Regions from separate parts of the Homo sapiens genome. Here region 1 is linked to region 2. A link means that fine-mapping ties the variant in region 2 to the expression of a gene that starts in the linked region. Tissue or cell type: whole blood. Region 2 holds a variant in brackets; the other region holds the start of a gene. All regions are shown on one strand. Distances are between the middles of the regions.

What was found. PIP is the estimated chance that this variant, and not a neighbour inherited with it, causes the effect.
Region 1: RIPK3 starts here. The variant in region 2 is fine-mapped to the expression of RIPK3 in whole blood (INTERVAL, PIP above 0.99).

The regions. Positions count from the first base shown.
Region 1 is chr14:24,338,521-24,341,020 of GRCh38, forward strand. RIPK3 (receptor interacting serine/threonine kinase 3) reads right to left here and starts at 1,471. Exons shown (of 10, transcript NM_006871.4): 1 at 1,287-1,471; 2 at 937-1,077; 3 at 495-804; 4 at 1-47. The coding sequence starts at 1,306. RefSeq lists enhancers at 837-906, 1,137-1,336, 1,357-1,426.
Region 2 is chr14:24,418,855-24,421,611 of GRCh38, forward strand. It overlaps NYNRIN (NYN domain and retroviral integrase containing), which reads left to right. Exons shown (of 9, transcript NM_025081.3): 9 at 1-429. Among named protein-coding and RNA genes, the nearest start is that of CBLN3, 9.4 kb to the right of the region's middle. The variant GA/G (reference allele first, on the strand shown) is at 1,120.

The DNA of each region.
Region 1 (2,500 bases), 80 kb before region 2:
CCTGACTGTGAGCCTCCCTGAAATGTGGACAGGCCAAAATCTGCCAGCTGCAAAGGAAGGAAAGAAGTGGGAGGTAGGGAAGACAAGGGGGCCAGAGAGCCTCCAGGAACCCCCCTGCCCCCAGAAGGTGCAGGTTCAGCTTTGTAAAGGGAGTGTGGAGGTCAAGGGAAGAGGTTCCCTTGGATGGTAGATCTAGGTGCCTTGTGGTAGGGCTAGGTCAAGGTCTGAGTCTCCAGGGCTGGGTCAGCCATGACTCTTTGGAGGGGCTGGTGGGGCAGCTGGTGGAAATGACTCGTGTGGCTCAGGGCCTCTATCACCTGGTAGGCAGGAGCTAAAACTCCTGGCTGGGCTTTGTCCCCTGGCAGCCCTGTGTCCAGAGAGAGAGGCTACGCCTATTCAATAGACAGGGCTCTGGAGGTCTAGTGTCCGGCGGGCCTGGCTGGAGCAGCTCTGGGGCCTTGTCTTGAGGCTGAGAGGGGTGTAGACCAGCTGACCTTGACGTGCAGCTCTGGGTCCAGCAGGACGTTGGATGGCTTGAGGTCCCGGTGCAGGAGCACCGGGTTCTGGTCGTGCAGGTAAAACATCCCAAGCACCACTTCTTTCAGCAGGCGGCAAAGGAGCGGCCAGGGCCGAGGGCACTGGGACTGCAGCAGCCCCGACAAGGAGCCGTTCTCCATGAATTTAGTCACCAGAGCCGGCTTGGGATCTTGGTCCCAGTTCACCTTCTCGATAACCCCTTCTAGGCGCAGCACGAATTCGTTATCCAGACTTGCCATGGCCTTGACCTCCCTGGATATCGCCTTCCTACACTCCAGGAGAGAGCTGGAGTCGCACCGGGGTCGTGGGAAAATCCCTCCCTTCGCCATTCAGGCCCCAGAGCACAGTGGCTCCACCTTTTTGGCCAGATTGCGGCTGGGGTCAACCGGGGTCACTCACGAGTTTACGATCTTGACCGCCACATCGTAGCCCCACTTCCTATGTTGCGCCCGGAACACTGTGCCGAACCCGCCTTTGCCGACGAGCTCCTGGTTCTCCAGTTCCTCGATGGACACCAAGGGGGCGGGGGCACCGCTGGGCCTGAGAGAGGGGTGTCGCCCACTAGCCGGCCGTGCCGTGCCTCAGCGCTGCTCCCCGCGCCCCTGTGACTCGGCGTTCTCACTGCAATCCCCAGCCTCCCTCGCCGGCCCCCACCGTCCCCGGACTCAAAGACGTTCTCTGAGCGAGTCTGTGGGGCTCTCTGGGTGTGAATGTCGGAGGCTGCGATCGACATGCCACTCCCTACTCACCATAACTTGACGCACGACATCAGGCTGGAAGGTGCCAGGGGGCCTCTGGAAATTGCGAGCCGTAGGAGATGGAGTGACTTCTGGGGCTTGGTCCTTTCGCAGAGAGGGGAAGGGGTCTGTCTGTGCAGGGGTCAGTCTCTAGACCAAGACGGTGAGTCTACTTTCCGGGTTGTTACCCTTTTTCCGAGTTGACTGAACAACTTCCCTTATAGGCGCCTCTACAGTCCCGCCCCTGGGGTGGGGCAGGGGGCAGAGCGAAAGCTAGTGCCTTTCTCCTTGACTAGCGTTTCCTGAGCACCTGCCGCAGCCAGATTAGGTGTTGCTGGGCATTGAGGATGTTAGGGAAGGAGTCCTCACCTTCCAGGAACCCACAATCAACCCACTCCTACAGTCAAAGCCTTCCCTTTTCCCACAGGATTTCCTGCTCCACGACCTGCCAGGCCATGAGTGGAGATGGTGCTTAGGAGGGTTTTATGGTTCTAGGGCTCAGCTCTCTCACAGCTGCCCTAAGATCATAGCCAACACGTATATAAAACTTATCATGCACCAGGTATATATATTAGCTTATTTAATTCTCACACGAACCCTAAGGGGATAGGTACTGCTTTTATTACCTTTCTATAGGTGAGGAAACTGAGACACTGAGAGTTTAAGTACCTTGCCTAAGCCCATATGGAAATAATGGCTCTGAACCATCAAGTTATCCTGTTTTCACATAGGCTTCAGGGCTGTACCACTCAGCTGGTCGTGCAGGTGGCTGGGAAAGGTGTGAAGCATCCAACAATGTAGTGAAGGATCCCTATCTGTATTCCTGCCCAGTCCCTATAGCTGCTCTTGCGAGGCAAGTCTTTGGCATTGATAGGGACTTATATGCCCTTTGAACAGGAGCTCCTGGAGGTGGCAGGCCCCAAGCCCACTCCCAGGGCATTGTGGTAAGGCTAGATTTATCAGCCCATCCAGAGGGTTGGTGACATTGTGGTGTACACTACAGTGGAAACACCTCAGAGCTTTCCTGCCCTCTCCCTTGCATGACAACTCTTGCATGCAAATACCCTAATTAATGTTCCTGACAAGCACATGCTCTGGACACAGTCTTTTGATAACCCAGAAGCATGGAGAGTCTTAAAGATTTAGGGCAGAAAAAAGGTGTCCATATTTTACCTTTCTGAGGTCTGACCATGACTGGAGGTTGTGGGAACCCGATAGGGCCTGCC
Region 2 (2,757 bases):
GGCTGAGCTGAGACCAGGATTAAGCTTCCTGACTCCCAGTTCACCATGAAAAGGGTTCTGGCAACAGGTTCAAGCTGGAGAATCCTTCAAAATGCTACACCCACATTCTCTCCAACTCTTCATCTCCCTGATCTTCCAGACAAACTACCTGGATGTTGCCCTTAAACCATTTCTAGCTGTTAACCCTGTCCAGAAAAATGATTGAGTGATAGCTGAGAAGTGGAAAGTGTGGGATTTTTGGCAGGTGCTCTCTTTCCTCCGCCCCCCGCGCCATTCTTTCTCTTCCTCCTCTCTGTAATGGTATGTCCAGCCTCACTCTCCCTCCCTGGTGCTGTATGCGTTCCCCCTGTTAGCTACATTTGTGATCACATACCCTTCTTTTAAGTGAATTTTTTTCATTTGATTTGTCAATAAACGAATCAAACTGGAGCTGATGTCCAGTTCTTTGTTTAGCTTCAGTCTCAATTGTGGGAATGAGGAGTGTGGGGCAGTCATGGGGTATGGCTGCTATATGTTTCCCAGATAAACTTGCAGATTTGAAGAAAAGTACCTTTTCCAGACCATCTGCCCCAAGCTCTTACTGTACAGATGAAGAGACCAGGGCCCAGAGGGTGATATGCTTAAGGCTCCATAGCTGCTTCATGGCAGGGCTGGAAGGAGAGTCCCACCTCTGGGCTTCCAAGCTGGTACCCTTGGCAGTTAATGTCTTGGAAGTGGGCAGGGTTGGAATGAAAACGAGTGATGAGGCAGGGCACGGTGGCTCATGCCTGTTATTCCAGCACTTTGGGAGGCCGAGGTGGGTGGATCTCTTGAGGCCAGGAATTCAAGACCAGCCTGGCCAACATGGCGAAACCCCCTCTCTACTAAAAATACAAAAATCAGCTGGGTGTGGTGTCAGGCACCTGTAAACTCGGGAGGCTGAGGCAGGAGAATTGCTTGGACCCGGGAGGCGGAGGTTGCAGTGAGCTGAGATCACACCACTGCACTCCAGCCTGGGTGACAGAGTGAGACTCCATCTCAAAAAGAAAAGAGAAAGAAGGAAAGAAGGAAAGAAGGAAAGAAGGAAAGAAAGAAAGAAGGAAAGAAGGAAGGAAGGAAGGAAGGAAGGGAGGAATGAAA[GA/G]AAGAAAATAAATGAATGATGAGAGAATGGTGTTAGTGCTGAACCAGCTTCATTTTACTGGAAAAATTATAGACCTAGGTTTGCATCTATATTTGCTACCTATGCAGGCTGTTTCCTGAGGTCTCAGTTTCCCCATCTATAAAACACAGGGTAACAATTCCTAATTTATGAGATGGTTCAAGGATTACATGAAATAATCTGTTTGAAGAGGCCAGTATGGCTTGGGATGGAATAGCATTCATCATATGTAGCTAACATTACTCTTCTTCCTGCCCTGGGAACTCTTGCTGGTCTCTCCCCTCAGGATCAGAGACCTTCTTAACCCAGGCCAAGCTTCGTGACTTTAGGCCTTTGCTTTTTGCTGCCTTTCTCACTTGCCCGGGGTTCTGCTCAGCACTGGCTGGCGTACGGGTTGGGGTGGGAACCATCCTTCCTGAGAACTCCCCAGCTCCTGTGCATACCATTGTTCATTCAGTATTTATAGGACACCTGCTATGTGCCAGGCTCTGCCTAGGTGTGGGATGGCTAACAGGTAACAGGAGTGACACGGTCTCTGCCTCTTTGCAGCCCACAGTCAGGTGAGGGAGACAGACAATCCAACAAACAAATACAGTTCAGGGTGGTAAGGGAAACAATGTGGCCTAGGAGCCCATGGTGCAGGGGCCTGGGGTCTCAGCCCACATGACAGTCAGAGAAGCCTTGCCTGAGCCCCTTCACCAAAAGTAATAGGATTTTGCCAAGCCACCTTTCCAGTCAGCCTTCCACTTTAGAGTGCTGACCCTTTCCATTGCTGACCTGTACTACAAACAATTTATTACTTTTGGTTATTACTTTTTACTCTAGATAACTTTAAGCAAGAATCAGATTTTACTCACGCTGGCTTCTAAGTCCTCTGACAGTGAGGTTTTTCTTCTTTGCTGTTCAACAATCTACCAGGTCTGAACAGAAGTTTGAGATTCCTCCTATTTTTGGAGGGGTGAATTAAAGAGTTTTGTCCATGGTAAAGCACCATGGACGCTCTAGGCAACCAGTCACTGCTTCTCTGGTTTACACCATCACAATTATTCCTTCTTATTTGGGCCCTGGCAGGAGGGCTTCCCCAAGTCTCTAACAGAGAAATTACAAAGTTGCCAGTATCCAGACAATCCCATGACATAAGCAAACAATAAAAATAAAGAATATTCCTATCCCGTGCCCCTGTTAAAACTTACATAAGCTATCTGGTGAAGTTGGGTCCACCTAAGCCTTGCTATACCATGCTTTCCTAGCAAGTATTTACTAAGTCCATGTGTTCATGAATGAAAGTGAACATACCTGGAAGACAAAAGCTTTGTAACAGGTAAATGGCTACAACAAATAAAAAATCCTACCTGCTTTTAAAAGACTGTCCAAGAATCCCTGGGACAGGTCCAATTTTTAACTTGTTTACTAAGTCATCTGATAACAGTAACTTACATATACTGAGTACTTGCTCTGTGTTGGGTACTGTTCTAAGTGCTTTCCAACCCTGTGGGGTGCATACAATTAGTATCTCCATTTTATAGGTGGAAGAAAATGAGGCACGGAGAGGTGAAGTAACTCACTGAAAGTCATGTACAACCACTGAGAGGCTGGATTTGAGCACTGACTCCTGTGCT